2 separate regions of the Homo sapiens genome follow, and region 2 is linked to region 1. The links come from fine-mapping of genetic effects on gene expression. A gene starts in region 1. The other region holds a variant in brackets. All regions are shown on one strand. Distances are from middle to middle. Region 1 holds the start of SLC1A4 (solute carrier family 1 member 4). Region 2 has its middle 22 kb from the start of SLC1A4.

What was found. PIP is the estimated chance that this variant, and not a neighbour inherited with it, causes the effect. A credible set is the group of variants that fine-mapping cannot tell apart.
Region 2: its variant is the best candidate, but not a certain one, in a credible set for the expression of SLC1A4 in adrenal gland (GTEx, PIP 0.71).

What each region holds. Positions count from the first base shown.
Region 1 is chr2:64,980,864-64,994,306 of GRCh38, forward strand. It overlaps SLC1A4 (solute carrier family 1 member 4), which reads left to right and starts at 8,536. Exons shown (of 8, transcript NM_003038.5): 1 at 8,536-9,307. The coding sequence starts at 8,781. RefSeq lists enhancers at 4,553-4,622, 4,933-5,002, 8,538-9,122 and silencers at 7,846-8,545, 8,756-8,935.
Region 2 is chr2:64,959,046-64,975,518 of GRCh38, forward strand. It overlaps the pseudogene RPL11P1. Among named protein-coding and RNA genes, the nearest start is that of SLC1A4, 22 kb to the right of the region's middle. The variant T/G (reference allele first, on the strand shown) is at 8,123.

The sequences.
Region 1 (13,443 bases):
CAACTCTGCTGTGGAACAAAATCAAATGTGGAGTCTTTTGCTCTATCATTATTCTTTCCTGTAAAAACAATGTTTTGTAATTTTGAAAATTTTGGGCCGGGAGCGGTGGCTCATGCCCGTAATCCCAGCAGCACTTTGGGAGGCCGAGACGGGCGGATCACCTGAGTTCAGGAGTTCGAAACCAGCCTGACCAACATGGTAAAATCCTGTCTCTACTAAAAATACAAGAATTAGCCAGGTGTGGTGGTACGTGCCTGTAGTCCCAGCTACTCCGGAGGCTGAGGCAGGAGAATAGCTTGAACCCAGGAAGTGGAGGTTGTGGTGAGCTGAGATCGCACTACTGCACTCTAGCCTGGGTGACAGAGTGAGACTCCATCTCAAAGAATAATAATAAATAATAATAATAATAATTTTGAAAACATTTAAATCTACTTAAAAGTTTCAAGAACAGAACAACACCCATATATCCTCATCCAGTTTTACCAGGTATTAACATCTTACCTCCCCCACTGCATCATTCTCTTTATATTTGTATACAATTCCTGTTTGCCAAGCCACCCAAAAATTGTGTGCAGACGCCATGACACTTCATCCCTAAATATTCCTTCATGGTCTGTCAAGAACGAGGCTATTGTCTTAATATCCAGAACACCATTGTCACCCCTTAAAAGAACTCAACATGAAGTTCAACATATAGTCCACACAAGATTTTCCTTAATTCCCTCAATATTGTACTTTTCTTTTCATCTAGATTCCATTGCATTTTGTTGTTATATCTCATTAATTTATTAACTGGAAGAATAAAATATATGTAGATGTTTGGGTCCTATCCCAGAGCTACAGAAACAAAATTTCCAGGGTAGAGCCCTGGAATCTGGCCTTTTCAAATTCTTTCTAGGTGACTCTGATGAAAGTTAACCCTGAGCTCTGAGCTCTACTTGTAAGACGAGTTACCTTTTTCAGGAGTCCATATCTTTTTTCCCAAATAGACTTTAGTCCACTCCAGTGAATTCTTACACCAAGCACAATAAATTCTTGTGAGAACTATAACTCATACTAACTGATACCCATTTCTTCTCCACCCTATCCAATCCCCCTCTCCTCTAATTCCACCAGCTTCTCACCTTATAGCATTGCACTTAGTTGGAAGGACTTGATTGGCAGGCTTTAAAGGCCTAACTCTAGATCTTATTTTGTTCTTTAATGCCGAACTCTGTTAATTCAATGCCCTTATAAATTATTCTTAATTGAATAATATGGTGGGGGAGGGATTGGCTTGTTGAAATGCAGGTTCCAAGGCCCTGCTCCAGGCTCAGGAATATGCATTTTATCAGCTGCTCTAGTAATTCTTACTCCCCAGTTTTGTATTCATTCTATGAGCCGTGCAGAGTGATTTATTCTTAGTGGGAAACTACATAAACATCTCATTGTGTTGTTGAATTAAATCCCTAGCCTTAGAACTGCCACCCACAAAACCCAGACACCAACCTAACTGGTGTTCCCATCTTCTAACTTGTCTTCTTCGGTGCTCTTATTTCACCAGACCCTTCTACAAAGAAAATGTCAGTTATTATGTCTTTAGCTAGTCTCTAAAACCATGGAGACAGACACTTTACTTCAGTTTCATTCTGACTTTTACTCCCATTCTGACCAAATTCCTTTTTTACTATTGACTCAAATTGTTTATCTGAGTCTGCACCTGACCTTTTGGTTCTAGGGGCATTTCTATGGCCCCTTTTTTCTCTTTTTTTCTTTTTGGTTTGTAGGGATGATACTGAGGGGAGCCTAGAAAAAGGATTACTGATTACAAAGTCATCAGTACTTTGATGCCAGTATGCCACTGTACACTAAGTTATTCACCACAGGAGAAAAAGAATTCATTTATTACTTTAGATTTTGTCTTTGCTTGCTCTGTTTGCTAAGTAGTCAGATCTATTTGGAGAGCAAATAATCTTTTTTTAAAAAAAAAATCACATCGTACTTCCTACAAAGTTGTGTTTTGCTGATATGGAAAGAACTAAACTGGCATTTAACCTTTTTAATATAATTGTTACTTCAACTATCTGGTATCTCTTAGGAAAAGTAAAAAGTACTCCAAAATCCAAATTTGCCTGTGATGAAGGACAAAATTTTCTTTTTTCAGTCCATTCATGGCAGAAAAATAACTCCTGCTCCATGATTTTGGTGATGTTCCTGGTGAATCTAGTGAAATAATGTGAAAAATATGTAAAGGTCATCAGATGTGAAGATAGAGCTGAGACAACCTCTTTGCTAGCAGAAGCCGGCGTGTGAGTACAATACACTATTCATGGATACATAAGTATATTGGGAGTGGCAGTCACTTTGACAAGAAAGGAATAAAACTATTGTTATCACTCTGTAAGTAAAAAATCTATAGCCATTCTTTAATGAGGGAAACTGAGTCTCCTTCATGATGGATGATGCAGTCCTGGTTTTAAGAACATGACTAAATCATGACAAAATAACTTTCTTTTATTTTATAAAAAATTGTATGTATTTATGGTGTAAAACATGATGTTTTGATATATGTATACATTGTGGAATGCCTAAACTATTTAACATACACATTTCTGCAAATACTTATTTTTTGTGGTAAGAACTCTTTAAAACTACTCTCTTAGCAACTTGCAAGTATACAATATATTGTTATTATCTACAGTCACCATCATGTACAATAGATCTCTTGAACTTATTCCTCCTATCTAATTGAAATTTTGTTTCCTTTGACCAACATATCTCCAATCCCCCCAATCACCAGCCTCTAGTAACTACCTTTCTACTTTCTGTATCAGTGAGTTCTACTTTTGTATAATAAATTCCACATATAAATGAGATCATATGGTTTCTCTTTCTGTGCCTACCTTAACAAAATATCCTTCAGATTGATCCATGTGGTTGCAAATGACAGGATTTCCTTCTTTTTAAAGGCTGAATAGTATTCCATTGTGTTTATGTACCACATTCTCTTTATCCATTCATCCTTTGATAGACAGGTTGTTTCCATATCTCAACTACTGTGAATAGTGCAGCAATGAACATGGGAGTGCAGATATCTCTTCAACATACTGATTTCATATCCTTTGGATATACATCCAGGGATTGCTGTTTTCATTGCTAATTTTTTGAGGAACTTCCATACTGTTGTCCATAATGGCTATACTAATTTACATTCCCACCAACAGTGTGCAAGTGTTCTCCTTTCTCCACATCCTCTATAACATTTGTTATCTTTCTTCTTTTTGTTAATGGCCACTCTGATACCTGTCAGGTGATATCTCATTGTGGTTTTAATTTGCATTTCCCTGATAATTAGTGATGTTGAACATTTTTTATAGACTTATTGGCCATTTGTATGCCTTCTTTTGAGATATGTCTATTCAAGTCCTTTGCCCATTTTTTAATCGGGTTATTTGTTTTCTTTCTGTTGAATTGTTTGAGTTCCTTATATATTTTGGATATTAACCGCTTATCAGATGTCTGGTTTGCAAATATACTCTCCCACTCTGTAGGTTGTCTCTTCCTTCTGTTGATTGTTTCCTTTGCTCTGCAGAGCTTTTTAGTGTGACATAATCCCATTTGTCTGTTTCCCCTTTTGTTGCCTGTGCTTTGGGGTCATATTTTTAAAATATCATTTCCCATACCAATGCCATGATGCTTTTCTCATATTTCTCATATTTTCTTCTAGTAGTTTAACAGTTTCAGGTCTTAAATTTAAGTTTTTAATCCATTTTGAGTTGATTTTCGTATATGGTGTGAGATGAGGGTTTAATTGCATTCTTCTGCATATGGATATCCAGTTTTCCCAGCACCATTTATTGAGAGACTGTCCAAAGCAAATTTCTAGTAGAGTTGTCTAAAGAAACACCAGAGCTAGGGCAAGTAGTGACTTATGTGTGCTGCGCTGGCCCACAAAACACGAGTATTTAAGCAGTAATGTTACTGTGGATTGAAGATGGCTGCAAATTCTTGATTATTCCCACCATGGAGTGATGGGATCTAATTCTCCTCCTTTGAATTTGGGCTGGCCTTAATGATTTGCTTGACTGACAGAATGAGAAAGAAGTAATGTTCTGGGACTTCTGAGGTTAGGTCAGAAGAAGTCTTGCAGCTTCTACCTACATTTCTTAAGACACTCACTTTGGGGGAAATCAATCACTACATAAGAGATTTGACTTCACCAAGATTGCCATACTGTGAGGAAACCCAAGCTAGCCACACTGAGAGAGCAACAGATGCCCAGCTAGCCCCAGCAGATCCAAACCCACTAGCCAAGGTGCCAGTCGTGTGAATGAAAGAGGCATCTTGGACATTCCAGACTCAATAGATGCAATGTGGGAAAGAAACGAGGATCCTAATAGATAGCCAGAACCTAGGCCTCAGGCAAAGGACCCCAAGTGAGCTGTCCTAGCCATCTCTAGCCATTAAGCCACCCCAGCTTGGGGTTTCAGTCATTGTGAAACAGAAATGAGACCTCCTGTTATGCCCTGTCTGAATTTCTGGCCTATAAAATCATGAGCATAAAAAAATTGGTGGTTGTTTTATGCCACTCCTTTTTGAGATGGTTGTTGTTTTATGCCAGCGTGGTTTAGGCTGGTTTGTTATGCAGCAACAGATAACTGGAACAGATGCTGAAGTGAGCATTTGTATTACTCAGTTATTGCTACAATAACGCAGTATAACACATGACTCCGGAACTCAGTGGGTTTCAATAAGCATTTATTTTTCTCACGCATGGGTCTGTGGGTTGACTGGGGTGTTCTTCTTTAGGCTGTGAGGCAGCTGGGTTTGATCAGGGCTGCAGGCTAAATTCAGGCACACTCCTGTCTTTGTTCTGGTGCCAGGCTGAAAGGGCAGCATCTACCCAAGGCATGCTGGGTCACACGTATGCAGGAGTCCACATGCGATTGTGTGAAAACATTTTGATGCCTCCGCTTGCATCACATCCACTTAGTCCACTAGCCAAGGAGCTAAATGGCAAAGCTCAAAGGCAATGGGGAAGGTAAACTCCTATCTAAGTGGAAGAAACAAGGGAATAAATTTTGGCTGAACAATACTTTAGCCTATCACGGGATCAGATGACAGTAGCGGTAATGCTGTCAGGCTGGATCACTTGTAAGGCGTTGCTATAATTCAGTACTTACGCATCCAGAAATCAGGGAAAACACATATAAGTACTGTGGGGGAAGGTGTCTAACACAGGAATCAACTTTTTTTTTGCACAAAATACCTACAAACAGGAGGCATGTAAAATTATCAAAAGACCAAAAAATGCAAAAGGAGAGGAAGAAAGAGGGAAAAAGGTGGCAGAAAGTGAACCCTTTCATAGAGAGATATAGTAATACCACCAAATGTCACGGAGGCCAGAAGAGGACACCTATTTCTTGGTTTGCCTCACAAGTAGGCAGAATGGCTACAGGGCAGCCCTCTGGAGATAAAAGGCCCCAAGAGACCCTTTCGCTAATTCAATGACAGATATATGTGGCATAGTATAAGGCACCCCCAAACAGTGCTCTCACACTCAGCACCACACGATGTCTAGTAGTTCAGGGAGTTCCCCACTCCCAATTGAGGGTTGACTGACTGTTATTGCAGCTTTGGAGTGCACAGGTACAGCATAAAAAGCTGCAAGCAGCAAGCAGAGTTGGTGCAAAGAGGATTCAGAAAGGCTATGGGAGGAATGTGGTATCTGAACTGGGACTGGATGGAGAGGCAAAACAATGTGGAAGGAGCACACAGCGCCATTTTTGCAGGAGGCATAGAGGGCACATGGCTAGAGAGCAGGCTGAGGCCAGATCATGGTAGGTCTCGAATGCCAGGATGAGGAACACATTCTTAATTCACTGGGAGCCACTGAAAGCTTTTGAACAAGAAGTGATATGAAGGAGTTGTCCTCCAATATCATTTTTCTGTGTTTCCTTAGTAACAGAAACTCCAATTTTTTAACTGGGTGGATGCCTGTGTAAAACAAAAATTACATTCCCTAACGTTTCTTGCAGAAAAGAATGGTCATTTGACTAAATTCTTATCGATGAAATATAAGAGAAATAATGTGTATGACTTTTAGGAAGTGTTTTTAAAGAGAGATGCCATGCCCTCATTGCTCTTTCTTTTCTGCTGGGTGAAAGCTGAACTTTATCCTAACATGTATATTACTCATTAGGAAGATTAGCCTGGGGCAAGGCAAAATACAGGATGGTTGGAACAAGAGGAGCATTGGAGGTGGGAAGACTAATTGGGAGAACATTTCAATAGCCCAGATAAGAAGTGAGGAAATAAGAACTGAGCCAGTGTGGTAGCAGTGGGAATAGATGGGATGGGCAGATGTGATAAATATTGTGAAAGGAATCTCTGTGGGACTTGGCAATTCATTAGATGAGAGAAGGCACCACAGAGGGAAGAATCAAAGTTCGCTTTGAAGTTTCACACAGAGGTGACTGGGTCATCAATTATGTTTTAACCGAAGGGATGAGCAGGTTTGAGGAAGGCAACCATGAGTTTGGTTTTGAACATTTTAGTTGGGACGCCTGCAGGATATTCAGGTGAAGATGTAAAACAGGCAGCCGAAGACTCATTTCTGGAGCATGATTTGAGAGTCTTTTGCATAAACGTGGTAGTCAAAACAAAGGGAAGGGCTGATTGGCAAAACACAGTGTGTGTCTGTAGGAATTACTCTTTCTTCAGTGCACATAGAGAAATGAACTGCATTCTGGAAAGCCAGATATAAATATGTGCAGCTCTTCATCTGACACTACCTCCCCCGCCCACCCCCCCCCCCCCCACACACAATCCTTACAAGTTCTAGCCAATAGCTGGCTGGCTCCAAGCAATAAAATACTCACTGTCTCAAAATTTGGACAGCTCCTTAAAGTTCCTTATGAAGGCATTTTGATTTGCACAAATATGTCATGACATGTTTTAAGATGACTCCTTTATAGCAAGAAATCTATAGTAAATTGCCTTCCTCCTTAATTGAGGTTAGCCACAATTAAGTCTTCCCTTGCCTGGCACAGTGGGTGGTGCCAGCTACCAAGGAGGATCCCATAAGCCCAGGAACTGGGAGACCAGCCTGGGCAACATAGCGAGACCTTGTCCCAGAAAGAGAGGAAAGAAAGGAAAGAAAGGGAAAGAAGGAAAGAAGGAAGGAAGGGAGGGAGGGAGGGAGGGGGGGAGGAAGGAAGGAAGGAAGGAAGGAAGGAAGGAAGGAAGGAAGGAAGGAAAAAGAAAAAACAAAAGACCACCCACGGAAGTCTTTAAAGAACAATTCACAAGCAGAATAAAAAAATATAAAAATATAATAACTGTGATACAGTAAAAAGACTCAGCAGAAGTTTCCCTTGTAACTCGCGTGGCCAAAGCAGATATCAAATAAAAGATGAAATAAACAGGAAATCCATAGAACGTGAACAATAAGGAACCGTTCAGGATGGCCAAACCGCCGTCTGCGCTGTTTTCTCGCCAGGGCTCAGGCCTGGGAACGGAAGAGGTTAAAATCCAGTGGCTTGTGTTTCAGCTTTGGTTACGTGGCAGAAACCAACTGGAAGTGGTGGCGTGAGAGCTCTGTTTCTTCTAGAAGAGCTTTGCGTCTTAAACGCCCATACCGCAGACAGCTGCCTGGCGGGCGACCCAGCCCCATCCTGATGGCCCCAGGACACAAGCCCAGGAGCGCCCCGGTGCGCGCGGTTCCGCGGCCCAGGGGCGCCGGGTTTGGTGGCACAGCGAGCCCCCTTTCTCTAGCGGTATGGCTGCGTTAGAGCCCTAATGAGCGCGTGCGAAGGCTCCCCTTATTCATCCATCCTCCGGTCCGTCCTTTGTCTCAAGGCCGGGGCCTTGCTGGGCACCATGGCGTGCTTTACCGCACAAGCCCCTGAGGACCCCTGGAAGAAGGGATCTTCCGCAGGAGGGGACGCGACGGCAGGACCGCCCCGGGCCCCCTCACCGCGCCCGGCCCCCTGGCGGGAGAGGCCGGCGAGCTCTGGAGAGGAGCGCGGGCCGCGCGGGGCGAAAGCGCCACCCGGGAGAGAGGGATCCTCCCCTCTCCTCCTCTCTTCTCCCCTCCCCTCCCTCCCCTCCCACAGTCCTCAGGAGGAGGAACGCCGCTGCGTTCTAAGTTCTCCCGGGCCCTCTGGCCCCGAGGACTCAGATCCCGGCCGCGGGAGAGGGCCCGGCAGGTGCCAAGGAGCCCGGGCGGTCCTTCAGCCCGCACTTCCCCGCGGTCGCCCGGAGCCGGCCTCCGTTAGCCGGGCGGGTAGGCGGCTATTGGCGCCAGGATTGGCCGGCGCCGCCCGCGCCCCCGCGGCCTCGGGTGGAGCCTCCCGCCCGGCCGCCCCCTGCGGCACCCGCGACACGGGTGGGGACCAGAGGCTCCCGGCGGCGGCTCCCGGCGGCGGCTCCCGGGCTGTGATTGGCCAGCGCCACAGGGGGCGGGACGGCGGGCGTGAAGTGAGCGGGCTGGGGCCGCTGGCGCGCCCTCCTACTTCCCCGTCTGCGTCCGCGTTCGCGGCTCCCGTTTGCATCATCTCCAGCCGGCGGCTGCTCCAGGGAGGCTGGGCGCGATCCTCTCCGCCCGCGGCTCCAACCCGCACTCTGCGCCTCTCCTCGCCTTTCTCGCACCTGCTCCTGCGCCAGGCCCGGAGACCCCCGGGGCGGCTTCCCAGAACCTGCGGAGCACAACTGGCCGACCGACCCATTCATTGGGAACCCCGTCTTTTGCCAGAGCCCACGTCCCCTGCCACCTCTAGCTCGGAGCGGCGTGTAGCGCCATGGAGAAGAGCAACGAGACCAACGGCTACCTTGACAGCGCTCAGGCGGGGCCTGCGGCCGGGCCCGGAGCTCCGGGGACCGCGGCGGGACGCGCACGGCGTTGCGCGGGCTTCCTGCGGCGCCAAGCGCTGGTGCTGCTCACCGTGTCCGGGGTGCTGGCGGGCGCGGGCCTGGGCGCGGCGTTGCGCGGGCTCAGCCTGAGCCGCACGCAGGTCACCTACCTGGCCTTCCCCGGCGAGATGCTGCTCCGCATGCTGCGCATGATCATCCTGCCGCTGGTGGTCTGCAGCCTGGTGTCGGGCGCCGCCTCGCTCGATGCCAGCTGCCTCGGGCGTCTGGGCGGCATCGCTGTCGCCTACTTTGGCCTCACCACACTGAGTGCCTCGGCGCTCGCCGTGGCCTTGGCGTTCATCATCAAGCCAGGATCCGGTGCGCAGACCCTTCAGTCCAGCGACCTGGGGCTGGAGGACTCGGGGCCTCCTCCTGTCCCCAAAGAGACGGTGGACTCTTTCCTCGACCTGGCCAGGTAACACTCTCCACCTCTCCCAGGGCCCAGTGGGAGACGCCAGTTCTCGGATGCCCTCCAGTTCATACACCCATATGCTTATACACTCCTAAGAGTTAATTCTTAGCTGGCTGCTGGTGGCGTTTAACGTTTTAAAAATATCAAAATGACGTCTGGAGTTTTTGCGTGCTGACCACACCTTTGCAAACAGCTGGGGCGCACCGCACAATCGAAAGAGCAGGGCCGCATCTTTGAGCAAGAACCAGTCCCCACCGTTAGGTGGGCGTTTGTTAGGGAAGAGCCAGCCGCCCCGCCTGTTCTTTACTCCTTATACTCTCGCGCTGCTCTCCCCGGTAAAAATGTTCCGACCACGCCCCAGTGGCTTCGCCTCATTTTCTCCCACATGGTGCCTAAAAGCTTCTGGGAGCATTGGTTAAGTTTTGCCTCTTGGGTCATCCGGCTTGCAATCTATGGCCTTCTCTGTTACAGTCCTTGGCTGCGAAGGAAGCTGGCAATTTTCTGCAGTTATCAGTGGACCCACGGATAATAGGGCTGGGGTTAGTTGAGTGAGACATATTGCCCAGAAATATGCCTCTCCTGAGGGCTTGGGGCTTGGGACAGGTTGCTGTCCACCCCAGTAAAGACCACGGCAGAGTGCTGTGTTTCAAAGGCCTTTCTTTGTGCGAAAGTGTGAGTTCTAGAGGGGAGGGAGAGAAGCATCTTCACTTAGTTTTGCCTGCTTTTTGCAATTCTTAGAAGTTGCATTTCATCCTTTGAGATGATGTAGTATCCTTTCTGTGACTTATCCAAAACCTTGGTCTCTCCTGGTTTCTCCATTAGCCCAAAGTTCACAAATGGGGAAACTGCAGCCCGGAGGCATTTACTGATCTAACCAGGTTCAGTTGAGTGAGGAGTCCAGCTGGCTCCTTCTCCAGATTTCTGATGATTTTGGATTCTGAGCCTTGGAGTTATTAATATATTTTGTCTTGAGTTATTGAGGCAAAGCTCCTCATTGCTGAGGTTGTGAAAAACAGCAAACCCTGGGCAAAGTGACTTGCCTTTCCAACTGTTTCCATTTCTCCTTCTGGAAAATGTGATGGCTGTCTGCACTTAAGAGAGAGATTGTTCACTTAAAACAACAAAAATCTAGGACATCCGTATTTAAAAACAAACAAACAACAACAAAAAAAAACCACTCATGAGGGAGACCAAAAGTTCTTGCCAAAAGGGCAGATAGTGGTGGCCTATTAGGACTTTTAAGGGGATCACAGCTTTTTTTTTTTTTTTTTTTTTTTAAAGTCTGGGTCTTGCTCTTTTGCCCAGACTGGAGTGCAGTGTTGGGATCCTAGCTCACTGCATCCCCGAACTCCTAGGCTTCAGCGATCCTCCTGCCTCAGTCTCCAGAGTAGCTGAGATTACAGGTGCACACCACCACACCCAGCTTTTTGTTTGTTTGTTTGTTTGTTTTTTGAGACGGAGTCTCGCTCTGTCACCCAGGCTGGAGTGCAGTGTGCGATCTCGGCTCACTGCAAGCTCCGCCTCCTGGGTTCACGCCATTCTCCTGCCTCAGCCTCCCGAGTAGCTGGGATTACAGGCGCGTGCCACCACGCCCGGCTAATTTTTTGTATTTTTTAGTAGAGACGGGGTTTCACCATGTTAGCCAGGATGGTCTTGATCTCCTGACCTCGTGAGCCACCCGCCTCGGCCTCCCAAAGTGCTGGGATTACAGGTGTGAGCCACCCTGCCTGGCCCCAGCTAACTGTTTTAAATTTTTTTAGAGATGGGGTTTCACTATGCTGCCCAGGCTGGTCTAGATCACAGCCTTTGTTCTGTGACTGGCAGCTTGATATTTGGAGTCCAGACACTTTTTAAGTTTGGAAACTAACTTTTAGGTGAGTGCTGAAAAGAAGTCTCCTGAGGTTGAGAGCACCTTTAGCCTATTACCTGTAGGAGGTCGGTCAGCTCTCTCAGGGAGGAAAGGCAATAATGGGGTTAAAGGATTATTCTTTGCAGGGATCTGTGGCCCAGGGAGGGAGAATGGATGTTCAGCTCTGTCCTGCTATGGTCCCGCACCGGGAGCCTCAATAGGATCTTTTAACTCCAGAAGAGGGGGCAGTGGTGGTAGGGGGTACCTCATTACCTCCTGAAGGGACTTCTTGTTTCCTGATCATGGTTTTCTAGTTTTAGACCCAAGCCCCTTCACCTCCTGCTTCTGACATGGATGGTGACCCAGCGTCATAGCTTAGTAGTGTGGGTGCAACTTTTCAATGACTTGGGCTGCACCTGCATGGAGGGCTAAGAGAGGCTTTGTTGTGGCTTGCTGGGGATAGGTATTGCTTCATAATTCTTCCAACAGCCAACTTCATCTAATCCAGCAGCTCACGGATAAAGGTAGGGCAGGTGGTATATCCCATTTTATGACTGACAAAACTGAGACAGAGATTAAGCGATTTGCTCAAGGTCATGGAGTGGCTTATAAAGAAGAGATTAGAAGGACTGTGGGTCTCCTACCCCACAGTGCAGGGTTCTCTCTCTTTCTCCTAATCCCTCTTCCTCCAAGTCAACATGCCTTAGTAATGTCACCTGCCTAGTCTAGTGTGGCTATCTCAGAAATGCTTTCTCTGGGCCCAGAGAGGAACCAGGTAGGCATATGACTGGGTAAAGACAAATGCTCCTTTCCTCCAGCCAGCGTGGAGGCTGAGCTCCTCAAGTGAAGGAAAGTATGTGTGCACCGCTGAGGTTTGGTCTCAGGCTGAAGCAGCTTGTGAAAGGAAACTAAGTCCCAAGCCACCCGGAAATGCTTCCTGAGTCTGGAGAGTCTCTGACATCAAAATTAAAAAATTGCTTCCTTCAAGGAAACTTCACGGATGTGGATTTCATGTGACTCTGGGCATCTTCTTTGGAAAGGCAGTGCCCCATTCCTTTCTTCCTAGGGGCACGTGAATGAAATGAGACTCTGCCAGTAAACGCCTCAGTTATCCAGCAGGCCCTCTCGAGGTAGCTGCTCAGAACTTAAACACCTGGAAGAGTGGGAAAGGCCTCTGATGAGTCAGCATAGCTGCTGCTGAGGCTTTGTGCTAAAGTCCATGCCCTTTCCTGATGGTAAAGTGCCCCCAAATCCCCCAGGGTCTCTCTGTCATGATTTCTAATTTGGTTTTTAAAGCTGGAACTACAAGTCAGAAAGAGATGAAGCTAGTAGGTATTCATTACATGTGTATATGTTTTTTTAAAATTCAGAATGTCATTGCTGAGTGGTTTGATTTCCCAGCACACAATGGGTTAGAAATAACAATGTAGAATAGAGAATTGGGATGAGAAGGCTGGAGCTAGAAGCAATGAGAAGGGATGGCCAATAGTAGCTGGCAGGTGGAAGAATCATAGTCTCTTCCTGAGCAGCCCGGAGTTCTGTGCCTGGGAATCCAGAACAGTATAGGACTTTCAGAACCATGTGTGACCTAAGTGGTTGACTTGTGGGTTTTTATCCAAAATGAAATGGTTGGGCACCAAAGAGACAGAAACAGGTTATCAGGAAACTAGTCATTGTGGAACTTCTTGGTCCCTAACAATGCTTACTGGTTGTGGGACATGTCCATAACTTTTCCATTCCTTGGTTTCCTCATCTTTATTATGGGAATCATGATGGTACCCACCTCGCAGGATTGTTCTGAGGGTTAGCTGGGTTGTGTCTAAGAGCTCTAAAGCTCTTCTGGGTTCTAAAGCTGTTAGAACAGTGCTGGCCCAATACACCTGTGCTCTTGTTATAAATAGAGTGATTGGGTTTTCCAGTTCACCTGAGCTAATGGGGATGGCCCTCTTTCCGTAACCTGAAATAAATGAGGGTAGATGGGAAGAAGAGGAATGTTTAGGGGAACTCAAGATGACTTGAAGCTAATGTAGTCTCTAGGTGTATTGGGAACCACATGGCATCTGGAGGAGAAGTGAACAGTAACTGACTATGTTTTAGACTACTAATTAATAGAGTCACACTATGGAAAATTTGGAAAGGGAGAGAAGTCAAAACTAAACACAGAAGAGCCTTCCATTCTGAAATGGGACAGAAGTCCCCACAGATTCTCACTGACATTCCGGTTTCTTTTTCCCCTGCCTTACATGCTTATGATCTCCAGTTGACCTCCGCTATAAATTGAAGGGATTGA
Region 2 (16,473 bases), 20 kb before region 1:
ACTATTTCTACATGCACACTGCAGTAGCAGTTAGTACATTTGCATTGCTGTGCACCATCACCACTCTCTCTCTCTCTCTCTCTCTCTCTCTCTCTCTCTCCAGAATTTCACCTGCCCAAGTTGAACTCTGTACCCATGCAGCAGTAACTCCCTATTCCCCCCGGCTCCAGCCCCTGGCAACCCCACTCTACTTTTTGTCTCTAGGAGTTTCGCTATTCTAGGTACCTCATAAAAGTGAAATCATACAGTGCTTGTCCTTTTGTGTCTGGCTTATTTCACCGAAGGCCAATTTCATAAAATACAATTTGCCACATGTTCTAAGGTCAAGTTGTACCAAAGCTTATTCTGTTTTTCATCTAAAATTACATCCAGCCGCACTATCTAATGCTGCCCATCATTGGTTCTGCAATGAATTAAATGACAACAAAAAGATGCTCCAATAATAAAATTCTAACAAATAGAGAGGGCCCAAATTTGAATATAAACATCCTTGCTGCTATCAAATGCCCAAGGAAAATTAAAGTCCTAAAAATTAACTTTTTAAATTCAGTCCAATGAACCCAAAGTCCAAAATTTTTAAGTTAATGTTTAATGGGAACTAGAGTCCAAAATAAAATTATCAGCCCGGCATGGTGGCTCACGCCTATAATCTCAGCACTTTGGGAGACCGAGGCGGGTGGATCACTTGAGCCCAGGAGTTCGAGACCAGCCTGGGTAACATGGCAAAACCCCATCCAAAAAAAAAATACAAAAAAAATTAGCCAGGCGTGGTGGTGTGTGACTGTAGTCCCAGCTACTCAGGAGGCTGAGGTGGAAGGATCACTTGAGCCCAGGAGGCTGAGGTTGCAGTGAGCCAAGATTGCATCACTGCACTCCAGCCTGGGTGAGAGTGAGACCTTGCCTGAAAATTATATACACACACAGACACACACACACACATATATATATATATATATCTTGCCCTATGAATTACACTTTATGTTTCTTTTCCTTTCCCCCTGCTTCCCCACTGAAAACTTTGTATTGGCCTTTTGGGTAGAAACGGGAACTTTTTTACCAGGAAGAATAATCCTATCACACTTCCACTGGAACCAGCACATGGCCTCCTCTTTGCTGACTCTGTTTGTCCCCAGTGCAGTCTGTCCCACACTTCTTGTCTGCGATGCTAAAACCTCACCTGTCCAGCACCACATTGAAGTCCAGGTCATAGATACCAGTGCTTGAGTCATATTTGATACCTATATCGGTGTGTTTCTGGATCCCAAAACCAAAGTTTCTAGTATCTGAGGGATTATTTTTTTCTTTTCTTAACTCATATTCCTGTACCTTTAGACCTTTCTCCAGGATTGTTTCTGCCTTGGCCCCTCAGAGTGTGCAGTGGACGGCAATCTCTTCATTTCTCCTGATGCTGAAGGATCTGATGCTGTACTTGGCTTTGGAAAACACAGGGGTCTGGCCTGTGAGCTGCTCAGGTCAGTCTGTCTCTACCCTCCCCACACAGATATTGAGGCGAGTTTGTGGATGTGAAGTTCCCAAGTGGGGATCTTCTTTTCACCTTGATCCTGCACCATCATGGAGAATAGGAAGAGCCAAATTTCTTAAATAAAATTAAAATTTAAAGAAATCACTCCTGAATGTTAAATTCTGCTCAGAGTCCTTCAGAGAGGTCCTCGATACCTGGATAAAATTGGGGGTTCTTCAGTAACTTCAAGATCAGACATCTCTCCTAAGAATAAGTGTGGTTCTTTCAGGACCTCAGAAATTAATAGGACACAGGAGATAATTACAACACCACCTATTAACACTTTGGGCTTTAAAAAATGTTCCCAGGCAAAACCATCTTCTCAGTACCCTGTATTTATAGAATTTAGACTCAACTATTTTGTCAAAGCCTACAGGAGAAACAAGATGTTCTGAGGGAAGGAGGATAAACAAAGTGAAGGCCGTCTTGGATCAGCCTTGCCAGAGGACACTCAGTCTGTGGTGGGTGTCTGGAGCCTGCTCTCTGTGAATTTAAACTCAACTGGGAGAATTCTCTCACTGAAAGGTCAATTGTGGCACTTTAAAAAAAAATCCAGTACTCAGAGTAGTTCCAGAGGAGCAGAATCTTAGGATGATTTCTTTGAATTCGTTCTGGCTTATCTAGAATTGATTTTCTGATCTGATTAGATTTACAGGCATTAATGAGCCTATTTCCAGAGGTAAAGAGGGCACTGATACTTTATGGCCTGCAATGACAAGACAGTAATGTAAAATTATTACATTTAGAGACCTGTAATCAAGTTTTATAGAAAGCTAGGCTCTAGGTTACTAAGCATTTGAGGCTGTAGTTCCTTTTAATGAAAATAAGGAGGACATGCTTCTCATTGGGCTGGAGAACATAAGGAAAGAAAATGATGAGCTCGGGACTTCAAATTTCCAGCTCAAGGCTCACATTAAGAATCTGGAAGCTCCAATGACTACTTAAAGAAACCCTAATCTCCTATAGCCACAGGGAAACTAAATCCAAAGTCTAATTTTGTGGGTGGCTGAATTACAAGGCAAATTGAATTTGCAGCCATGTAGTACCTCTTTTGTTAAAGTAAGGGTACTGATTGGGAAGGAGAGGGGCCCTGAGAACTGGAAGGGGATATACGGGGAGATTCCAGTAAAGCTGGGAACTTGAACCCCAAGTTCTGCTGAATCTTCTTTGCTAATAGAAGCAACCCTTCCATCATCTGAGAGGACTGGTTCCCCTTTGTCTAAAGATCCTGTAATAATCCTCTGCAGAACCCATCCCCACCACCTCTCTCTTTCCTAGATTTATAACTAGACTCAAGTCCCCGAAAGCCCCAGAAGGTAAGGTACAAATTATGGATCATGAGGAAGTGTATTAGTCAGGGTTCTCTAGAAGGACAGAACTAATGGGATATATCTAGATATAAAAAGGAGTTTGTTGGGCCAGGCGCAATGGCTCACACCTGTAATCCCAGCACTTCGGGAGGCTGAGGCGGGTAGATCACGAGGTCAGGAGTTTGAGACCAGCCTGGCCAACATGGTGAAACCCCATCTCTACTAAAAATAGAAAAATTAGCCGGGTGTGGTGGCAGGCACCTGTAATCCCAGCTACTCAGGAGGCTGAGGCAGGAGAATCGCTTGAAACCAGAAGGCAGAGGTTGCAGTGAGCCAAGATAGTGCCACTGCGCTCCAGCCTCGGCAACAAGAGTGAAACTCCATCTCAAAAAAAAAAAAAAAAGAAAGAAAGAAAGAAAAGGAGTTTGTTAAGGAGAATTGACTCACATGATCACAAAGTGAAGTCCCACAATAGGCCATCTGTAAGCTGAGGAGCAAGGAAGCCAGCAGTGGCTCAGTCTGAGTCCCAAAACCTCAAAAGTTGGGAAGGTGACGGTGCAGACTTCAGTCTGTGGCCTAAGACCTGAGAGCCCCTGGCAAACCACTGGTCTAAGTCCAAGAGTCCAAAAGCCAAAAATCGTGGAGTCTGATGTTCGAAGGCAGGAAGCACCCAGCATGAGAAAAGATGAAGGCCGGAAGACTAGGCAGGTTAGCTCCTTCCACCTTCTGCTGCCTGCTTCTTCTTTTCTTTCTTTTTTTTTTTTTTGATATATTTGTAATATATTTACAAATATAAAATTCTGACATCACCAGACATAGTACTGAATGTCATTTTCTTGAAAGCTTGCCAGTTTTTGTACATTTTTGCACAAATGTACACGATTGTACATTTAGGCATCATAAGTAGTATCAACACCATAAAAGCATATATGAAATTTAAGATTAATATGCTTTCTGCCTGCTTTTTCTAGCCGTGCTGAAAGCCTATTGGATGATACCACCCACACTGAGGGTGAGTCTTCTTCTCCCTGTCCACTGTCTCAAATGTTAATCTCCTCTGGCAACACTCAGAAACACTCAGGTACACCCAGAAACAATACTTTACATCCTTCAATCCAATCAAGTTGACACTTAATATTAACCATCATGAGTCCACCCTTTGTCAACTTGAACCCATAAACACCTCCTGAAATCATACTTATCCTCCAAATAAAGACAATAATACGGTCATAATTATGTCTAACGTAATACAGCTATTCTTTTACAACTGGAAACACACTAATCCTTAAATGCTATTACATAAAGTTAACAACACTTAAATGCAGGTGTGAAGTCAATAAATTTCATGTCACATGATAAAGGAAAAAGAAAGGAAATAAAATGAAGATATTTTCTTAGTACAAGTGTATACATGCACAAACACGTTCTTAACACAATAAGGAGGAAATACTCATGACAATTACAGTTCTCGTTTCTGCAACTGGTCACGTGGTCGTAGCTGGTATTGATAACTACCTTCTTCTACTACCCACTCTGTATTCCCTTTGCCTTCAGCAAGCACCTCAGTGGGTTGTGGATTTTTACCTTGTGGACTGACCCAAACTTTCATTCCTGAAGGGTCTGGGCCATTTGTAGTCCTGTTTGGATTGGATTGTTGTAGTTTCCCATTGACCTTAATTACAGACATTCCTGGGAGGAAGAGCTGCTGACTCAAGGGGTAAGGGCCTGGCAGTAGAAAGGGCATGTGTGCAGCTACCCCATCCGTTTTACTCTGCCCTAGTGACACCCAGGTTCCCGCCTCTCGGAAAGCCTGGTCTTGTGACCTAGGGGACTTTGCTGGAGGTAAGGTGACTTGCTAAGTCACCAGCTCCTGGACTGACATGCTACAGCTCAGTTCCCGGCAATTATTAACAGTTGAGTCCCCAAGATGCAGGTGGTGATCAGCAGGCCCTAGGCAGCAGCCACTGGCCAGGGAAGCAGACTCAGAGCAGAAGAGGGAACAGGGACAGAGGGAGACACAATTCTGTCTGGCTCTAGAAGCCTCCACTAGATGGTGGTAGGAATGGATTTGCCCCATCCACTTTAGTTTGCAGGTGTTCATAAGCTCCCAGATAAGTTCTGCACATTAGCAGGAGTGGTTAAGAGTTTGTATCTGGAGTCAGATGGGCTAGATTTAAATCCTGGCTCTGACATCTACTAGCTTTGTGATTTTCACAAGCTAATGATTCTCTCCAAGATTCAGTTTTCTTCTCACATATAGAGTGATCTTAAAGGTGTCTATCCCATAAAATTGCTGGGGAAATTAAGCCATATAAAACATGGTGCCTTGCACATGGTAGGCACCAGTGTAAGGCCCCAGTGTAAGGTAGTCATTATTATTATTAGCTTTGATATGTGGGACATATTTTAAAAGTGGCTAAGGGTTTGCTGTCAACATGCAATAAGGAATGTGATAAGATAATTAAGTAACAACAAATAGGTTAAGATGAACCTTTATCCAAATCATCTTATATTATTACTAATAATAAGTGGATAAGAGTTGAAACAATTTAAAAGATGGTTTCATAGAGATTCCTCAGAGGAGCTAAGAACCAAAACATCAATAATGGAATATAGAAACCTATTAGCTAGGCCAGGCATGGTGGCTCACACCTGTAATCCCAGCACTTTGGGAGGCTGAGGCAGGCAGATCACTCGAGGTCAGAAGTTCAAGACCAGCCTGGCCAACATGGTGAAACCCCATCTCTACCAAAAAATACAAAAATTAGCCAGGCATGGTGGCACGTGCCTGTAGTCCCAGCTACTCAGGGAGGCTGAGGTGGGAGGATTGCTTGAACCTGGGAGCGGAGGTTGCAGTGAACCAAGATCTCGCCACTGCACTCCAGTTTGTGACAGGGTGAGATCCTGTCACAAACAAACAAACATACCTATCAGCTAAAAATCCCATTGACATTTACAACTGCTAAGTAAAGAAATATAAGGCCTGGTCACCATAACACTCTGCTTGGAATTACATCCCATTACCAGAAAAGCCTGAATTACTAATGGTAACACATTAGATGACAGGAACAAAATATGAGGCTTTCTCTCTCTTCCTGCACTGAGTCCCCTACCACTGGACAGACTCCATTGACCTGGGCCAGGCAGCCACACAAGTGTCTGGAAGGCCCACAGAACACAGAACACAGGGACGGAAGCCAGAACTTGACTAAGCCTCAACCCCAAACTAGACTGAACCCACTGATGTGTGAGATCACGAGCCCAACCCTAGCAAGCATCCTTTGTCTCCTACTTGGAGGGGGGATGTGATGTGAGACGTAATTTGGAAAACTGAGGTTTACTCCTTTTAAAGCCCTAAAGCTTAAAAACAAACTTATATCATTTTGGGAATGTCTTGCCTATTCTCTTGCCATCTTAAGTATACCATAAGAAACCCAGAACTTTGGGGGGCTGAGGCGGGCAGATCACCTGAGATCAGGAGTTCGAGACCAGCCTGGCCAACATGGTGAAACACCGTCTCTACTAAAAATACCAAAAATTAGCCAGGTGCAGTGGCGAGCGCCTGTAATCCCAGCTACTCAGGAGACTGAGACAGAAGAATTGCTTGAACCCAGGAGGCAGAGGTTGCAGTGAGCCGAGATTGCGCCACTGCACTCTAGCCTGGGCAACGAGAGCGAAATTCCATCTCGAAAAAAGAAAAGAAACCTCTTCAGCTCCTTTTTGATGTGGATGCATCATCACTTTGAATGTCCATGCCATAAATACAGCAGGCAAGAATGTAAGCCTATTTTCCCTGAAACTAAATGGCTCCAAAATACCATTTGTTCAGACATTCTTTCCTTTGTTTTTGCATACCGTTTTACTGTTTCCTCCTTTGCTGATATGCACCAGTTAATATTTTCTGCTTCTTTTAAGCAAACTGGTCAATATCCCTGGCTTTTACCCCATCGTGTGGCCATATTTCAATAAAATCATGACATCCTATTTATGCCTTTTCATTGTAGATGTATTTTCAGGACCACAACAGACCCTGCATCCTGATGCAGAGGGAGGTTTGATTCCAATCCCACCCCCATAATCACAGCAGTGTGACAAGTGTTTCAGCTGTTCAGTATTTACCTTTTTGTTTGGCAAGGTTTGACACAAAAGGGTATTTGGGGTTCTTAAATGTCATTTCTGCCTGAGTTGAAATTACATTCTTTCCCTACATTCATTTTCTATTGCTGCTGTAAAAAACTAACACTAAACTTACAGGCTTAAAACAACACAAATTTATTATCTTACAGTTTTAGAGGTCAGAAGTCCAAAACAGGTCTCACTGAGCTAAAATCAAGGTGTGGGCAGGGCTGTGTTCCCTCTGGAGGCTCTAGAAAAGAATCCATCTGCTTATCTTTTGCAGCTCCTGGAGGTGCCCACACTTCTTGGCCTGTGGCCCCTTTCCAGCTTCAAAGCCAGCAGTGACCAGTGAAGTCTTCCTCCCGTCACATCGCTCCGACACTCACTCTTCCGCCTCCTTCTTCCTCATTTAAGGCCCTTGTGATTGCACTGACCTCACCTGGATGACCCGGGCTATGCTCCCCCTTTTAAGGTGAGCTGTCTAGCAACCTAGTTTCATCCACAGCCTTCATTCCCATTTGTCATATGAGCTAACATAGTCACAGGTTCTTGGGATTAGGACTCAAACATATTTGGGGGACTACCATGCAGCCTACCATAGTCCCCTTTTTATGATAAGCATCTTAAAGTGTATTAATAAAAAACAACTAGAAAATACTGTGAAGCAGGCCAGGCACGATGGGTCATGCCCGTAACCCCAGGACTCTGGGAGGCCAGGGCAGGAGTATCACTTGAACCCAGGGGTTCAAGACCATCCTGGGCAACATAGGGAGGCCTTGTCTCTACAAAGAACTTTCTTTAAGAAAAGGAAAATACAGTGAAGCAAAGTGGAAGGGAACAGTAATTCAACCTGCGTTAGAGCCTAGCTGCACTCATTCTTTTAGGGGTCTGTGAAATCGTTTTGATTTCCATGAGGTGTATTTGCTGGCCATCTTTCAGAATGAACTTTAAAACAATGAGATACCCGTAAACCATTATACAGTAATTTGCTACTTTTATCGGAATGGTGCAAGTTAGGAAACCAGATCATTTATTTTGGACTTGTATCAAAACTTCGCATAACAAATATTTACACGATGCTCATCAAGTGTCAGGAACTGTCCTAAGAGCTTTTGTGTATCATTCCAATCCTCTCAGAACCTTCAGAGTATAGGTTTGCTAAGCTCCTTTTATA[T/G]ATAAGGAAACCGAGGCTTGGACAGCTGCTGCTGCTAATTAGCATGGATTTCCTTTAAAGAATCAACAGTCAAGGCAAAAAAAAAACCAAAAAACCCTCCTAGTTATCCCATTTAAATGAAGACCATAAGCCATAATATAACTGAAACACGACTTGAGAGAGTTTGCAATTATATAACCCAGTAAAGTTTGGGGAGCGGTCCCATTGGCAAAAACTACTGGTTGCTTATCCAACAGCCCCAACCTCACTCTCACCTGGCACTTCCCTCCCAGCCACTTGGTTTTGTTCCCCTCCTCCCAGGCGCCATGTTCTGATGTTCCTTAAGTGAGGCAGAGGGTGGTTCTTGATTGGCTTGAGCCTATCACAGCTGTCTCATTCCTGGATTTCTGAGTGATGGTTTGGACAAACACTTGGATGTGAGTGGAGCAAATGAGATATGAGGGAAGTCTGCAAGAGGATTTGGGGGGAGAGTTTCCTCACTTTCAAAAGGGAACAGATGATAGGCACAGTTCCTTTTTCTATGTAGGGATGCCATTCTATGAGTATGTGATGCTGCAGCCGTGTTATAACCAAGAGCCAATCACTGAACATGGCAGAGCGGAAAGATCGGGAGAACCAAGGTCCCTGATAGTATCACTGAACTTCTGAGCTAAGCCCGGGACTACCTTTACCCCCAGACTTCTTGTAATGAGAGGCAGTAAAAATTCTTATCTTAAGCCAACCTGCAATGGGTTTTCTATTTCTTATGGTAAAAATGATCCTAACTGATACATTATTCAACTTGCCAAAACAAAGTTTTCTCTCAAGGGTAATTCTGAAAATTTTCTGACACAGAACAAAATGTTCTAAAACCAATCATTACCCAGAAAATTGGTGTGTTCTGATACCTGATGCTTCAAAATTAGGGAAGACCTAGATCCCAGCAAATTTATTTCAGGTTTAAAAGACTGAAAACATTTGTTTGGAGTGAGATGCAGGATTGGATACCCTGTATCCGGTGTGGCATCCGCAAATTCTTCCTTCAAACCCAAAGTCCCTGAGGATAGGACAAATGAAAGAGAAAGTGATGGCTGGAACTAAGGTGGAGGGAAGGCACAGAACAGCTCTGCCAAGGGAGGCTGAGGAGGACACTGCATGTTAAAACACGAGACAGAGCCTCTGAGGGCTTTGTTTATTTTATGTATTCTTCTGCCTACTCAGAGATCACTTTATTATAAAATATTGACTACAAAGAGAAAAAAGAGTTGAGATCTGAGTGCTTATAGTAACTCTTCTTTTAAAACCAACAGGGAACAATATTGCTAACAAAACGAATAGGTCAGTTTAATTTAAAAGTGTATCAATGAGGCTGGGCACAGTGGCTCACGTCTGTAATCCCAGCACTTTGGGAGGCCGAGGCAGGTGGATCACCTGAGGTCAAGAGTTGGAGACCAGCCTGACCAATATAATGAAACCCCGTTTCTACTAAAAATACAAAAATTAGCCGGACGTGGTGGTGGGCGCCTGTAGTCCCAGCTACTCAGGAGGCTGAGACAGGAGAATTGCTTGAACCCGGGAGGTGGAGGTTGCAGTGAGCCGAGACCACACCACTGCACTCCAGGCTGGGCAACAGAGTGAGACTCCATCTCAAAAAAAAAAAGTATGTTAGTGAAATTGAGAGGTGACAGCGTGCTGGCAGTCCTCACAGCCCTCGCTTGCTCTTGGTGCCTCCTCTGCCTGGGCTCCCACTTTGGCGGCACTTGAGGAGCCCTTCAGCCCACCGTTGCACTGTGGGAGCCCCTTTCTGGGCTGGCCAAGGCCGGAGCCCACTCCCTCAGCTTGAAGAGAGTTGTGGAGGGAGAGGCGCGAGCGGGAACCGCGGCTGCGGGCTGCGCTTGCGGGCCAGCTGGAGATACGGGTGGGCGTGGGCTTGGCCGGCCCTGCACTCGGAGCAGCCGGCCAGCCCTGCCGGCGCCGGGCAATGAGGGGCTTAGCACCCGGGCCAGCGGCTGCAGAGGGTGTACTGGGTCCCCCAGCAGTGCCAGCCCACGTGCGCTGCGCTCGATTTCTCGCTGGGCATTAGCTGCCTTCCCGCGGGGCAGGGCTCGGGACCTGCAGCCCGCCATGCCTGAGCCTTCCACCCACTCCATGGGCTCCTGTGCAGCCCCAGCCTCCCCAGTGAGCGCCGCCCCCCGCTCCACGGCGCCCAGTCCCATCGACCACCCAAGGGCTGAGGAGTGCGGGCGCATGGCACGGGAATGGCAGGCAGCTCCACCTGCAGCCCCAGAGTGGGATCCACTGGGTGAAGCCAGCTGGGCTCCTGAGTCTGGTGGGGCCTTTATGTCTAGCTCAGGGATTGTAAATACACCAATCGGCACTCTGTCTCTAGCTCAAGGTTTGTAAATACACCAATCAGCACCCTGTGTCTAGCTCAGGGTTTGTGAGTGCACCAATAGACACTCTGTATCTAGCTACTCTGGTGGGCCTTGGAGAACCTTTGTGTCTACACTCTGTATCTAGCTAATCTGGTGGGGACGTGGAGAACCTTTGTGTCTAGCTCAGGGATTGTAAACACACCAATCAGCACCCTGTCAAAACAGACCACTCGGCTCTACCAATCAGCAGGATGTCGGTGGGGCCAGATAAGAGAATAAAAGCAGGCTGCCGGAACCAGCAGTGGCAACCCGCTCGGGTCCCCTTCCACACTGTGGAAGCTTTGTTCTTTCGCTCTTTGCAATAAATCTTGCTACTGCTCACTCTTTGGGTCCACACTGCTTTTATGAGCTGTAACACTCACCGCGAAGGTCTGCAGCTTCACTCCTGAAGCCAGCGAGACCACGAGCCCATCGGGAGGAACAGCAACTCCAGAGGCGCCGCCTTAGGAGCTGTAACACTCACCGCGAAGGTCTGCAGCTTCGCTCCTGAGCCAGCGAGACTACGAACCCACCAGAAGGAAGAAACTCCGAACACATCCAAACATCAGAAGGAACAAACTCCAGAGGCGCCACCTTAAGAGCTATAACACTCACCACGAGGGTCCGCGGCTTCATTCTTGAAGTCAGTAGACCAAGAACCCACCAATTCCTGACACAAAATGATCCATCCAAAGGAATTCTAGAAAGCCCCAAAGTAACAATATGGGTCTTTATATATTAATATGGAAAGACATGCAAGATACATGTGAAATAAAAGTTGCAGAAGTATCTATAATGTAGGGGCAACAGGTAGTCCAGGTTTTCTAGGGACTAACGGGGTTCCTGGGATATGGGACTCTAGTTTTGAGACTTGAAAAGCCCCATGCAAACAGGGACAAACTGATCAACCTAGACAATGACATTTCACTTCTATAATGGTGACAAATATAGTCTATCAATTAAGGTTTTTTCAGGTGCAAAACACAGAAAACCCTGGCTTATTCGACTTACACAATGAGGATGTTTGCCATCATGCCCTTAAAGAAGTCCATATTCAACATGTCAGCTTGGTTCTCTGGCTCACTCCCTCATAGACACAGATGGCTGTCATGGTTCTAAGTGTCCAGTTCAAATAAGGTGACATCCAGCAGAGGAAGACAGGCCAGAATTGCATTGTGGGCCCTCTCTTAAGCCAGCCTTTGGCACAGGAATTAGCTTGGATTTCCTGAACAAGATGGGGTTGTTTAGAAAAGAACAAAGGTAGATGTTATACAGACAGCCAACGATGTCTTTTATGTATACATTTTTATATATCACATATATATATGCATTGAAAATTCTGCAAGAATATAAATAATGTTAATAATTATTATGAGAAGGAACTTGTGCTAGTTGAGACATAAATGTTTGTGATGTTTTTATTTTTTTATAATAAGCTTGTATTATCTTGGTAAGTAACAGGCATTATTTTTTACATTTAAAAATGAAGTCAGCTGGGCATGGTGGCTCATGCCTATAATCCCAACACTTTGGGAGGCTGAGGCAGGAGGATTGCATGAGGCCAGGAGTTCAAGACCAGCCTGGGCAACATAGCAAGACCCCTGTCTTAAAAAAATTTTTTTAATTAGCCAGGCATGGCGATGCTTGCCTATATCCCTAGCAACTTGGGAGGCTGAGGTTGGGGGAGAGATTGCTTGAGCCCAGGTTCAAAGCTGCAGTGAGTTATGATCTCATCACTGCTCTCCAGCCTGGCCTGTGCACAGTGAGATACTTTCTCTTAAAAAAAAATATCATTTAGGATTGAGTGCAGGAAAGAGGATTAATTTCACTCCAGATGTAGATGAGTATAGACAGATAGACTAAAAACTGATGGTGGCAGGAAGAGGCCTTCATCTGTAAACCTAAGTCAGTACTGAGGTAAAGAAATACATTCCAACATGCCATTTTTGTTCTCAGGTCAAATCACACACTGTTGAAACCATATGAGAATGCCAAAACAGTGAGGCAGATACTAAAAAGATTCAGGTGAATAAATTATCATTTTTGTTTTCAGAAGAGTTATCCAGAAAATGTACAATTTGTTACTACTTATCCATTTGGAATTTGGAAATGAAAATTAGTGGCCCTAAGTAGGATACAACAGGTTTGGTACTGAGATATATAAATAGGTTTTTCTTTTTCTTTTTTTTTTTTTGAGATGGAGACTCGCTCTGTCACCCAGGCTGGAGTGCAGTGATGCCATCTCGGCTCACTGCAACCTCTGCCTCCTGGGATCAAGTGATTCTCCTGCCTCAGCCTCCTCAGTAGCTGGGTCTACAGCCGCACACCATACCACCACGCCCAGCTAATTTTTGTATTTTTAGTAGAGAGGGGGTTTCACCATGTTGGCCAGGCATCTCAAACTCCTCACCTCAAGTGATCCACCTGCCTCGGCCTCCCAAAGTTCTGGGATTGCAGGCGTTGAGCCACTGCATACGGCCTATAAATAGATTTTAAAATTTAAAGTTAAATTAGATTTTTAAATTTAAGAGATTATTTAAAGAAATCTTTAAGTAAGTTTTGGCTGAAGTACAGTGGCGCGATCTCGGCTCACTGCAAGCTCCGCCTCCTGGGTTCACGCCATTCTCCTGCCTCAGCCTCCCAAATAGCTGGAACTACAGGCGCCTGCCACCACGCCCAGCTAATTTTTGTTTTTTTTTTTTTGTATTTTTAGTAGAGACGGGGTTTCACCGTGTTAGCCAGGATGGTCTCGACCTCCTGACCTCGTGATCCGCCCGCCTCAGCCTCCCAAAGTGCTGGGATTACAGGCGTGAGCCACTGCACCCGGCCAGTTTTGGGTTTTCTTAATATAAAATACAGCTGTCATTTGGAATAGGTTATTTCTATGACTTAGGTTGGAGTTTCCTAATCTGTACTCTGAAGAAATTTAATACATGTTCCATGAAAATAACAGATGCCAATGCTATTTTTTCCTACCAAAATTTATTCTAGAATAGCACATATGTGAAAAATATTATTTTAATTACGTAGTAGTCTGCCTATACCAGAAAGAGCTGGAACAATCCCCGCAGGACGTTTGCTCTGTACGCCAAGGACGGAGCAGTGTTTACCAAATGCCTTGTAAGCTGATGGCAGCAGGCCCTGAGAGGCACCTACACAGCATTCACTCTCTCTGCCTTCCTTTACAATAGAACCATGATTTTGTTCAAGGTACCCATGGGACCAGCTACAGGACTTGCTTTTTCTCAGCTCCTTTGCAGCTAGTAGTGGTCACGTAACAGCATTTAGGTCAGTGAGATGTAAGGGGATGTCTACTAAGTTGGCTTTCAGAGAAATGTTGTTTTTCTGGTGGATGAGAAAGGCACATTTTGCCTCTTATCCTTGTCCTCCTTCCTCCTGCTTGAGATGCAGACTTGACACCTGGATGTGCAGTAGACAGCTGGTGACCATGAGGACAAAAGCCACATGCTAAGAATAGTCACCCAGGGATCCAGATGAAGCTGGGGTCATTGATGACATCATAGAGTTACTGCATCCGCCCTGGATTGCTCATCTCCAAATTGTTTATCATAGGAAAACAAACACCCCTATTTAGTTAAGCCATTGGTGTCAGATCCCTGTTACATGCAGCCAAATGCAATTCTAATGTATATGTACCTTGTCACATAATTTTAGCATGTGTTTTAGTATCTGTGATACTGCAAAATGCATACTGAGCACTAAACAAATATATGGCACTAACTTGTTCTCCTTAGATCTACGGCTAAAATAAGAAAGCTTTAGATGAAAAGAAGTGTCTTCACTTGCTAGATGATATCTGAATCAAATGCAAATATAGAATACTTTAAAGTAGAGATGAGCAATTGAGCTTGAACTTTCTAAAAGGAAAAAAAAATCTAGTTGTAAATTGCCCAAAATGAAACCATGAACAGCATTTGAAGTAGCCTAATTTAAGAGGGCACAAATATCACACAGCATGCAGCTCTCATCCTCCGTCCCTTGGCTGCAGTGTATCTGGGCAAAGTGGACTTTTCCCAACACACTGCACTGAAAGCGTAGATCCAAAGCTGTGCTTCATACACCTCTTAGCCACAATGATGCTGTTTCCAACATGGAGATAAGTGATTTCTAAAAGATAGAAAATATTTAAGAAATATATAAAAGACACAAAATAGATTTAAAAACTCATTTTAAAAGTTTTATAAGAACGTGTGAGATAAAAGATGTTTTGACTGAACTTTTTTCCTTAAGGAAATTCATCTAGGTGGCCCTTTTCCTGGCCTTCTTTAATACAAGTTTGCATTAGAGCATATGCATATCTGCTGTTGTTCTGTCAAGATTGTATTATTTTTAATGTATTCTGTGGTCAAGTTTAAGTAAGTTTGGGAAACATCATTCTCAACTGACAGAACTCTAGTCTAGACCTAAAAAGAAATTTAAAAACCATAGTCCAAGAATAGGTAGCAGTGTGTCCAAGGAAATCTGCTAATTTTTTTTTTTTTTTTAATTTTTGGGGGCCCTGTGCTTCCCTCCCCACCCCTCCCCTCCCCTCCATTCCCTTTACTTTTCCTTTCCTTCCCTTTCCTTCTGACACGGTCTCACTCTGTCACCCAGGCTATAGTGCAGTGGCTTGATCGTGGCTCACTGCAGCCTCAGACTCCTGGGCTCAAGCCATCTTCCCACCTCCTCAGCCTACTGAGTAGCTGGGATTATAGACGTGTGCCACCATGCCTGGCTAATTTTTTATTTCTGTAGAGATGAGGTCTCCCTAAGTTGCCCAGGCTGGTCTCAAACTCCTGGGGTCAAGCAATCCTCGCACCTCCGCCTCCTAAAGTGCTGGGATTACAGGTGTGAGCTACCACACCCAATCCACGTTAACATTTATAAGGAGAATCTGCTCTTTCTCACTTGTATTTAGCTTTATGTTGTACCTTTTTTTTTTTCATAAAAAATCAGATTTTGAAAGTAGGTCATGTCCGTGGGAGAAAAATTCAAATATTATAGAAGTATCAAAAGCCCTTCCCTGCTGGACTCTAAACGCTGTGAGGGCAAGCGTGTGCCTTTCATTCTCCTCAATCTCTCCAGCCCCTAACCCTGCACACAGTAGGGGCTCGAAGTGGCAGCTCCCCACCCCCACCCCGTCTACTTCCTGGAGACACCCTGGGTTAACAGGCTAAGGTGTAATGCAGACCTGTCTTATGCAAAGTTTTAAAAATAAACATTTTAATTTTAGAATCGTCTTAGACCTACATAAAAATTATGGCAATAATACAAAGAGCTTTCATATTCCCACACCCACTTTTCCCTATTATTAACATCTTATGTTAGCATGGTACATTTGTCACAATTAATGAACCAATACATTATTATTATTAACTAAAGTTCACACTTTATTCAGACTCCCTTAGTTTTTGCCTAATGTCCTTTTCTGTTCTAGGATCCCCTCCAGGAAGCCGTGCTACATCCGTCATCATGTCTCCTTAGGCTCCTCTTGGCTGTGACAGTTTCTCAGACATCCCTTGCTTTTGATGGCCCTGAGAGTTTTAAGGAGTGCCAGTCGTGTATTTTGTAGGGTGTCCCTCTATTGGGATTTGTCTGCTGTTTTTCTCATGAATAACAGGGTGATGGCTTTTGAGGAGAAAAACCGCAGAAGTAAAGTGCCATTCTCATCACATCATTATCATGGTACATATTATCAACATGGCATCACTGTTGATGCTGATCTTGCCTCCTATGCAGATTTAACCATTCCTCATTCCTGCTAAAATGAAGTCCTTTGCCTTTCATGTCAAGGTGGGGATCTTGTTACAGTTCCGATAGTCAGTCTCCCTAGTTAGCTTGGACACAGGCAGCCTAAACACGGGGATGACTCAAAAGAAAGACATGTGACCTTCACACTGGCCCTGGGCATGGGAGGAGGGTGTGGGGTGAAGAAGAGTCAGGATGACATGCCCACTT